Linked DNA regions of Homo sapiens: region 2 is linked to region 1. The links come from fine-mapping of genetic effects on gene expression. A gene starts in region 1. The other region holds a variant in brackets. All regions are shown on one strand. Distances are between the middles of the regions.

What was found. PIP is the estimated chance that this variant, and not a neighbour inherited with it, causes the effect. A credible set is the group of variants that fine-mapping cannot tell apart.
Region 2: its variant is the best candidate, but not a certain one, in a credible set for the expression of SEMA5B in tibial nerve (GTEx, PIP 0.58).

The regions. Positions count from the first base shown.
Region 1 is chr3:123,024,515-123,029,881 of GRCh38, reverse strand. SEMA5B (semaphorin 5B) reads left to right here and starts at 2,119. Exons shown (of 23, transcript NM_001031702.4): 1 at 2,119-2,418. RefSeq lists an enhancer at 1,008-1,515.
Region 2 is chr3:122,954,169-122,959,535 of GRCh38, reverse strand. The region is part of intron 2 of SEMA5B (semaphorin 5B); the gene reads left to right. Among named protein-coding and RNA genes, the nearest start is that of LINC02035, 70 kb to the right of the region's middle. The variant G/A (reference allele first, on the strand shown) is at 2,078.

The sequences.
Region 1 (5,367 bases):
TGCCAAGCCCCCAAACCCCCTCTCCACTTTATAACATGGAGAGGGAGAGCCAGGAAAGGCCTTGACATGATAGTGGGAAGAAAAGAATGAACACAATCAAAACATGGTAGCAAACAAGAGGGCAGGTGAGAGAATGTGTGAAGGGTGGAGAATATTTTGGTTATCTTTCAAGGGAGAGCTGTGGCTGACAGAGCCACTCAGAAGGCATTTTGTCTATTCTCCCAACCAGACAAATTGGAAGCTCTCCTGTTCATTCCCTGGTCCTGCAGTATGGAATAGCTTCGTGGTTTTTTGTGTTAATTAAAAGGTATCTCTATATTGCACATACTTCTATTTTTTGTGATGACAAAAACATTCCCCATGGCTCTGCAGGGAATGGGGGTTGGGGGGGGGGCACGCTCATTGCAGTGGAAAGGTTCCACGGTGGAGATCAGGAGACCTATCCCTATCTCAGCCTGGGACTCTGGGAGAATGGTCCAGAGCTCATTGTCCTTGTTGATAAAATGATAGATTTGGACTCAATATCCCATGCTGCCTCTTCCAACTTGATTTTTACCCCAGACTGGGCTACCAGACTGGTATGCCCACACATGCCCGTTTCCTTTCTTTTCTTCTCTGCATCTCTGCCTTTGTGTCCAGAGCGTGTTTTCCCTTTGCAAGTTTCTCTCCATTCTGCACATTATGAGTTTCAGCATTTCTGTTGCCCTAGAAAGTCTATCTTTGAGATCTTGCACTGTTTCTCTTTTTACAGTGTCTCATAAACTCCCTTCTTGGATTCAGAACCACCCTTTCTTTCCCATTATCCTGTCAAACTGCTTCTTGCCATGGTCCAGGGGTAGGAGGATGGCAGGCAGGAGGTGCTTCTCTGGGGCTCTTAGTGTCTCAATTCTTCTGCTTTATCTGGGTTTTCCTTTACCCAGAATTTTATTATGTAAAATGCTTCACTCAGACTTTGTTCTAATTATCCAATTTTTGGCATACTCTAGAAAGTCTTTTGATATTTTCCTTCCTCCAACTTATCTATTTTTATTTCATAGTTCTCTTTGGTTATCTCTTAGAATCACACTTTCCTGGTTTTAATTTTTCAAATCCTTTGTCTTTCTCACTCGTTCTTAGGTCACCTTTTTTTACATTTTCAAATATATTTTTTGTTCAGCAGAGGGCTCCCTTCCCATCCCTCTTGCAGCCCGGGCAGCTAGGATTTGAAGCTTGCCCCTTGAATCTTTCTCTCCCGCCTTCTAGCCATCAGAAACACTAGATCACTTAAACTTGTAAACAATTCGGCCTCGCTCCTTGTGATTGCGCTAAACCTTCCGTCCTCAGCTGAGAACGCTCCACCACCTCCCCGGATCGCTCATCTCTTGGCTGCCCTCCCACTGTTCCTGATGTTATTTTACTCCCCGTATCCCCTACTCGTTCTTCACAATTCTGTAGGGTGCGTATTACTAACCCCAGTTTACAGCTGAGGAAACTGAGGCTTGGAGAGGTTCGCTCGGTATCGTACAGTTTGCAAGGTTAACCCTAATCCGGCCAGTTCTGGCTTTCCAGCCCAGCCCAGCAGCCTAGCCTCCCTCTCTGCCGCTGCAGGTTATAACGGCTCTCCCCCGTTTTACACGAGGTCCCTTCCCCTTCAAATCCACAGGCAGGAAGATCGTTCCGAACTGACGGGGCTGGGGAATGTGGGAGTCCGGAGTGGGGTTTGGGGGAGCTTCCTCAGGCCCTGAGTGTTGGGGTGGGCAGGCCGCGCCGATGGCCCTCGGGGATGTCACATTCGAGATGGGGTGACCGAGAACGGCAAGGCGGGATGTGGCAAACGGCGGCAAGTGCTCGGAGTCCTAGGTCTTGCCGCCGGAATGCCGGCCGGGGAAGGGGCTTCGGCCCACCGGGCTGGTCACCACACTCGGCAGGCCCGGGGCGGGAGTCGGCCGAGCAGCCGCGGGATGCAGGGCGCCCCCTCGCGCTCCTCCGCGCGCCTCGAGGCTGGCGGGTGCAGCGCCCGCCGCGGCAGGTCTGCTCCAGCCCCCTCCTCTTTTTCGCTCCCGCTCCCCTCCTTCTCTCCCTTTGCTTGCAACTCCTCCCCCACCGCCCCCTCCCTCCTTCTGCTCCCGCGGTCTCCTCCTCCCTGCTCTCTCCGAGCGCCGGGTCGGGAGCTAGTTGGAGCGCGGGGGTTGGTGCCAGAGCCCAGCTCCGCCGAGCCGGGCGGGTCGGCAGCGCATCCAGCGGCTGCTGGGAGCCCGAGCGCAGCGGGCGCGGGCCCGGGTGGGGACTGCACCGGAGCGCTGAGAGCTGGAGGCCGTTCCTGCGCGGCCGCCCCATTCCCAGACCGGCCGCCAGCCCATCTGGTTAGCTCCCGCCGCTCCGCGCCGCCCGGGAGTCGGGAGCCGCGGGGAACCGGGCACCTGCACCCGCCTCTGGGAGGTGAGTCCCGGGAGCCCCGGGCGCTTCCCCTGCGCGGGTTGGGGCTGCAACTTGCAAACTTCAGCAACTCGGGTGGGTATCGGGGTAGAGAGGTAGGGGTCCGGGCTCTGGCAAGTTGAAGCCAGGTAGGTGAGGCTGCGGGCGGGAGGACAGGGGGTCCCCTGGCTTCCGCGCCTCCCGCTGCCACCTCGGCTTGAGAGCCCTCATCGCTGCTGCGTTCCCGCCGCCAGCCAGCTTGGGTCCGGGTTGCACTGGGCCCTGCCAGGGCTGTGGTCGGCGCATCTGGGCTGCAGCGGCGATGGGGACCCGGGACCCAGGCCTGGAGAAGGAGACGGACGAGTGAGGCTGAGGGACGGAGGGACAGAGGTGCGGAGATGGAGGCTCAGAGAGGGCCGGCTAGTAAACAGCACTGAGGGAGAGTGCGGGCGGCGAGGCGCGTGGGAACGCGTGGCCCGCCCAGAGTGTGAAATCTCCCGCTCAGGGACGTCCCTGCTCCACCGCCGCCGCCTGCGGAGCCGCCGCCCGGATTCTTCCCAGACCCGCCTCCAGGACACTCTTGCCCTGACCAGGCCTGCGGAGCGTGAACTCTGCCCACCAGGCTCCAGGGGCAGTGGCTCAGGGCCCCGCACTCCCGGCTGGGAGGGTGGAGAGGGGTGCGGCAGCTGGAAGCAGGGACGCGAGCGGCGATTTCCCGATTTATGTTTCTCATGGTAATTTGTCTTTGTGGTTGGGGCTGCCCATTCACTTTCCGCTCACGTCCTGCGGGAGATCCAGCGAGGAGGGAGGGAGCGGGGGGCGCTCGGGCACAGAGAGGGATGCAGACGGGAGAGGGGATCGGGGACCCGCGCGGGGCGGGAGCCAAGAGGGAAGTGGTCGCCGGACCGGCGGAGGAAGAAGGCGAGGCTCGAGAAAACCCGGCCCAACGGAGCCGACTCCTTTGCCCACCGCAAACTTTAAACAAGGAGGAGGATCACCTGCAGCGCCGTTCTGGCCCCCTCCTCCCCGCCCCCGCCCCCCACCTCGAGCCCAGTCTTTGGGTAGTTCCGACTGCCCGCCGCGCCAGGCGGGAGTGGGCCGAGAGTCTGGATGGGGAGAGAGGAGCGCTGGATTCTGCCCGCACCCCTGCGATCCTGCCCAGGCTTTCTGCAGAGGGGCGGGGTGAGAGCAGCAGGAGCCGGGAGGGCGGGCTACCCTGGCATGCACTCCTTCCCGGCCAACGGAATTGGGACTGAGGGTTTGGAAGCTTGCCTGTGTCTAGACCTCACCACGATCCTACCTTCTCTGGCCCTAACCCCATCTTTTTCCTTCAGCCCCTAGTGAATCCGACCTCCTTCCGCTTTTCTCAGGCACCCCAACCCACTTCGGCCTCGGGGCCTCTCTCCACAGCCCTCCCTGCCTGCTTGCTCCTCGGCCTCCCCACTTCAGCTCATCTTTTTAAGCCTGTTCTCTTCTTGACAATCAGCAGTGGCCTCTCACCTTTTCTAAGCCGGGACAGATGACCTTGAGGAAGGGGCAAGAGGGGAACTTGAACCTTGTAACTGGACCTCAAGATTACGGAAAAGGGGGGCAGATTTGAAAGCAGCTTGGAAAGAAACAGCCAGTACCTTTCCCGAAGTCTAGATTTTCAACGGAGGAGGAAAGGAGATAAAATATAGGAGAGATGGGGGAACTTGCCACTTGGTCACTCATGGGGCGGTGAGAACTGTTCTGGGCCTTGGGGCGTGGGGGTAGACCACTCGGGGCAGGGCTGCCTCTGGCTTGCTGTGTTGGGAAAGGTGTGTGTAGGTGAGTGTGGGTTTCAGGGGGAGCTCTTTTCTCCATATCAACACCTATCACCACCAGTTTGGGAAGGAATGGCAGATCTTCCATCCCTTTTCTTTTTCCAAGCAGCCAGTGCCAGAGCCTTCCTCCTCCAAAGCCAACAGTAGCGACCATAATCATCACCGTGGACATCTAACACTGTTTAAGCACCTACTATGTGCAATGCACCATGCTAAATGCTGGTAGATAAAAAGAGGTACAGGGCCGAGCCCATGCCCAGAGAGGTTAGTAAGTTCACCAGTTTGATCCTGAGACACTTGTCTATGTGTTTGGGGAGGGAGAACATGGAGAGGAACATGCAGTGGCTGTACAGGCAGCAAGGTGCCTGATGACCCAAGGGTTTAGGAGAGGAAGGGTTAAAAAAAACTCGATGACTCAGGTGGGACAGAGAGCTGGGCTTATTGACTCTGCCCTGAGATAGGACAGCCAGCACCTCCTTTCCCACTAGGGAGGGGAAAAAGTTCCTTTACCACTTCTAGTGCCAGACTAGAAAACCAGAGAAGCCGAGAGGTCCAGCCCAACACTGTAGATTGCTACCTCCCCATTAGGACTGGAGGAGCCCCAGAAACTTTCTTGTCTTAGGATGAACTTCCTGGCTTGTTTGAAAGACCCTACAGTGGTCACTTCTTATTGAGACTCAAAGCTGGGAGAGGCCCTGGAGATTGTCCATGTCAGGGGAAGCACAAATTCAAATGCCTACAGAGGGCAGGCAGGTCACAGTGTGTTGATCAGGCAATTAGAGTGGCCCAGCTTATGGACAATTGGGAGTTCAAAGCCAAACTGGCCAAGTGAAATGATCCTAACAAAATCAATTAACAGCCTTTAAGTAGCCTGACCCCTTATATCTATAGATAAAGATATTAAGATTCTAAGAAGTGAGCTCATCTGCCTTGGATATACATGTTATCTTGTCTCCCTGTACCTTGGGGATTGACTGGAATATCTCATGGCCTGGTTCTACCTCTGACCTGTTGGGCCCTTGGCTCACCCTCATTCTCAGGGCCCATTAAGATTCTTCTGTCAGATGATAAGTTCCTTGAGGGAGCCATCTTGTTTTACTCAAATCTGAGCACATCACATCCATTGATATAAGGTTCCACATGCAGAGCAAAGACTGGATTCAGATCT
Region 2 (5,367 bases), 70 kb after region 1:
CAAGACCAGTCTCTATGATCACAAATACAGAAGATTATAGACCATGTTTATGAGATTTTCGCCATCTGCAAACATTCCCTGGAGTGGCCTGGGCTCCACCCACATGGCTATGTCAAATAATGTCATTTTCTAAATGGCTGTGTCCTGTGTGGTGTGCTGGCATTGAGTAAGGGGCAGACTCCTGAGCCCGACTGCCTGGGTTTGAATCCAGCTTTTACCAGTCTGACCTCATGCAAGTTACTTTTAACTGGTCTGTGCCTCAGTTTTCCCATCCACGAAATGGCGACGATTACAATACCCGCCTCACGGGGTTATTGTTTGGATTAAACGGCATAATATAAAGAGCATAGACCACTTCTGGGTACACAATAACATGGTTGTTATTGTTGTTGTCACTGTTACTTAATCCTACTATTACTTAGTCTCTGCCGCGAGCTCCCTGCCCAATCTTGCTGTCTCCTCCCATCCTCAGTTTCTTCATCTATAAAGTACAGTGCTGAACCATGTAATCTGTGTCAGAGCCCTTCTTGTTAAACTTTTGGTCATCACCTTGTTCCTTTTATCTTCCCCATTGCAGCTGGAGGGATGTGGGTGGGACTGCAGGGAGGACTGCCGGAACACTCATGACACACATGCGTGACTTGGAGGTTTCTAGGAATATATGGAAGAGAGAAGAACTCAGCCCAGATTGCAGAAAGCAGAGGCAGGGGATGAAGTTGCCCCTGGGAGAGGGCAAGGGGGTGGGGGTAGGAGAGGCTCCCCATACCCTCCCCCCATAGATTTTAGAGCTAAAAAGTGCTAGGAAGGCTTTCCTCCCTCTGCCTTGCCTCTCTGGTCCAAATCTTCCCTCTGGGCCCCAGTCCCCCAGATGGTCTAAAAGGGAAGAAAAGAGGAAAATCCGTATCAAATCTGCTCTATTCAGAGCAATGGGAAGGCATCTGCATCTCAATCTTATCTTTGTGCTGAGTTGGGCTAAGCTTGGCCCCACAAGTGGTGAGTGATGTGTGGGTGGGAAGATGCCTTCACCACCCCCACGGAGAAGCCCACTTGTGGGCCACCATACTCGGTGGCCCTGGGCAGGGGCAGGAGAGGGCTGCCCCCACAATGCTTTCCCTTCCTGCCAAACTGCAGACAGTACACATTCTTCCCTGCTCTTGGTTTCCCCTCTATTTCCTCTTCTTTTATTTTCCTTCTCTTTTTCTCCCCCTTTCCCAGGCAGGAAGCCAAGTGGAGACTTTGAATGGAGGCAAGGATGGAGGGGACCTGGGGAAGAGGACTGGCCTGAATCACCTTCCCCAAAGGTCCTCATGGACTGAGCTGGAGGTGGGGACTAAAGGAAGCATCGCCTTCCTTCCCACCCACCCTGGCCCCTGGCTGTCAGGCCTGGGCTGGGGGAAGCTGCCAGGTGGCTGTCATCACTCTGGGCTTGGGGCTCCAGAGTCTGCCCTCTCCATCTGGAACCTCTAGAATTTGTTTCTCTGGAGCCATTCAGGACCTGGGAAAAACTGCCTCCCACAGCCCAAATTCACAGGAGGCTGGTGTGCAGCAGGAAGTCAGCTTAATAATTTATAGCCAGAAAGCACTCTCCCTAGTAAGGAAGCCAACTCAGAAAACCAAATTAAACTGGGAGGGCTGCTTGGAGAGCACTTGGAGCCAGGGCTGTGGAATGCAACGATAAGGCTGGGGCCAGTTTGTCCTCCAGGGAGGATGGTGAGTGTAGCAGCCCAGGGTGTGGGCTTATGCAGCAGACAGTCGCGGATTCAAATCCCAGCTTCACTGGCAGTGGCAGGGGGACCTTGGGCAAGTGCCTCAGCTTCTAGAATGATGCTTATGTGGGCACCTCTTGGCCTTCTTGCAAAGCTGCTGTGAGATCTTGCAGGGAAAGAGCTTACTTAGCACAGTGCCTAGCATGCTGTCAATATGCTCCAGGCATTTGTACTCAAGCCCCCATCTTTTAGGGTCGTAGGTTGTCTTTTTCTTCCTGATGACACCCTTTCATGGTTTTTTACACTAAAAAGAAAAGAAGTGTGAGGTTACCCTGGAGAGGACCTCCTTGTCGGCCGCAGTATGAGTGGCC[G/A]TGCTGCTCCTGCCTGGGTGCAGCTCTGTGGGCCACACGGCTTCCAGCCTGATCCCTCATTCTCCCTGCTTCTGTCTGGAGCCAAGCCCCACAGTTGGACTGGGGAATTCTCCACAAGGCTGCAAATTGGGCTGAGATCCAGCTGCATTCTGGGTGCAAGACCAGCTTCCCAATGTCTAGAGTTGCCCTGCTGACAAATGGCCTGCTCTAATCCACCTGTCCCCTTGCTCACTGCCACCAAACTTCCCAAAGCATGCACAGATCTGACCACATCTTTCTACTGTCCCAAACTATCCACAAATCCTCCTCTTCAGCAGAGGGAAAACTCCTGAATCTTTAGGTTTGTGCTCAAGTCTCACTGTGATTTGGCCTCGGTCCTGCTTTCCAGACTCATCTCCCTCTCTGCCTCTCTCCACCAGCTTCTCCAGATTGTCCAAGGATAGGCCAGAGCCAAGTCTTTCCCCTGCTGTGCCCTCTGTCTGGAATGCTCTTCGCCCCTGATGGCTGGGGAAGCTCCACCCTTGTTCCCTTCAAGAGAGTTCCGCCTTCTACGTGAGGCCTCTTAGACACCCGCCTGACTGCAGCCCGTCACCCGCTTTCCCAGGACGTTTTTTCCCTTTTAGGGCACTCACATCAGCTGCTTCCCGCTGCTCTACCCATGCATCTGTCTTGCTGGACGTTGCAGGAGAGCCGGCCCGATGCATCCTCGTGCTGAATGGAATGGTACCAGCAACTCAGCTGCTACCCACCCCGGGGTGGTCTGGGCGATCCCCTGTCTGAAAACGGGGGAGGGTTCGGTTGTGCAGGGGGCACCTGTTGGGAGACTGGTTTGCGCTCTGTGGGGGAATTCAGCTCTGATACACACTCTCTTAGCCTCTGTCTCCGTCATCCTTCGCCCCTGAGCAGAGGGCACCGGTCGCTGTGTAGCTGCAGGCCTCTTGATTGCTCCGGCCTTGGCTCCTGCCCCCACTTCTCTGCGCTCCTTCACTGTCACTCGCCAATTTCACTCACTCCCCCTGTTACAGCAAACCCTCTTCCTAATCTCTGTGCTGGGAAAATGAGCCCAGGAGAAGTCCCATACAAGGTGGGGAGGCCTCAGGGGGCGTGTGCATGGGCGTGCATTCTCTCACACACATGCGCGTGCATTCACACGCCTCCAGGCACCATAAGAGTGACCCCAAACCCAGAACCCACAGGGAACTGGGACAGCAGCGTGAGAGAAGGCAAGAGAAGCTCTGGCCAAAGATTTGGGAAAATGCTTTCTTCACTGCTGAAGATTTCCCAAAATAGCAGGAGTTGGCTGGTGCTGCATCTCCCCTCCCCCACTCCTAGAGCACCCTGCCCCAGCTCCAATGCCAAGCAGGCCCGAGGCAGGGCAAGGCACTGGCCATCTGTGCCCCCTTCCCCATCCAGACCCGGGGCCATGGGTCGCTGTCTGTGCTCACTGGAGACATGTCTCCTCTCCTCTTTTAGACTGTAAGCTCCTTGAAGGCAAGGACCATGGTTTTGTCTTGTGAACCTCCCTCCTCCCCGCTTTCTCATCTATACAGGGCCCAGCACATAGTAGGTGTTCAGTAAATGCTCAGTGAAGTATTATGTAAATGAATGAACAGATACTTAGGTAACTAGTGGAATATGTTTTACATATACTAGTAAACTAATATTAATGGATTTCATAAAGAGCCTACTCGGTACCAGACTTAGTTCTGGGTGTATCAAAGCAGTCTCTCTAAGCAAGAAGCTATTAACCTTATTTCACAGGTGATGAAACCAAGGTTTGCAACCAGGTAGAGCAGCCTCCCAAGCTCAGGGCTTTCTATGATACTATACAACCCTCGGGATAATTGGATTGGCTATGCACTGCTGGTGGGGAAATTCTGGAATTATTTTAACATCAAATCAGACAGACGTGTTAGAAATAGAAATTTCTGTTTGTCTTGGGAGTATTTGGTTGTACGTATGAGAAACCAAACTGTATGGGATAGGAATTATATTTAGTTAATATAATTGAGATGTGAAAAGCAAGGGCTTAAACTAGTTGAGACTGTATTATTCGCTAATAATAATAGCACTTATACAATGCCTACTTTGTGGCAGATGCTGTTCTAGGCCTGTTAGATAAAAATAACTTATTTCATCTCCACAACAGCTGTGAGCTGGGTGTTATTATTCTCCCCATTTTGCAGAGAAGGAAACGAGAGACACAGCAAGCATAGGAAAGGAGTCTGGAGGTAGACAGAACAGAGCTGGCTCCATCTTCAACATTCCAGGTTCCACCTAGCTTAGCATATGGCTAAAGGTCACGTCCTTTGTTTTTTTAGAGACACGGTCTAAAAAAAAAAAAGAAGAAGATGATGACTACTCAGGTAGGCTCAACACCTGCAATCCCAGCATTTTGGGAGGTTGAGGTGATAGGATAGCTTGAGTCCAGGAGTTTGAGACCAGCCAGGGCAACACAGTGGACTCTGTTTCTACAAAAAAAAAAAAACAAAAAACAAAATTGCCCAGCCTGGTGGTATGTGCCTGTAGTCCCAGCTACTCTGGAGGCTGAGGAGGGAGGATCGCTTGAGCCTGGGAGGTTGAGGCTGCAGTGGCTGTGATCATTCCACTGCACTCCAGCCTAGGCGGCAAAGTGAGACCCTGTCTCAAAAAAAAAAAAAAAAAAAGATGACCACCCCACAGGGCCCATATTTTTCTGTTCCAGTTTCCCCTGCAAAGACTGACTTGATCTGCTTTGCAATCCTTAGCATATGGCTAAAGGTCACTTACCAGCTGCAGATGGCTACTGTGGCACCATTCCTCCTATCTGCCAACCACTCTGGAAAAAGGGAAGCCCTCTTAGAGCACGTCCCTGTAAGCCCCACTGACAACCTCCTCATTCATCTCATGGGCCACCTCTTCCTGAAAGACTAGGAAAAGTTTTGAGCAGGGCAGGTTGCCTCCTGCCCTCATGAAGCAGAGGCTCCTTTAGAAAGGAGGAAGGCGAGGACAGACTGAGGAGGCAATGCCTGTTGGCAACTCCTAGTCTGACACAACTCCAACGGGATTAAGTAAAAACGGGAAATTTTATTACAAGGGTCTGGGAGTGGGGGTGGCTCATGGAAGTAGAATGTATTTAAACCTCAGGAAAGGGCTGGAACAGGGAACTGGAAAGCTGTCAGCATGCCTCTGTCTCCTGTCACTGGTCTTTGTCTTCAGATTGTCCTCAGCTCACATGGCAGGTAGCAGAGAACTGCCCCACGGTGGGCACAGAGGCTCATGCCTGTAATCCCAGCATTTTGGGAGGCTGA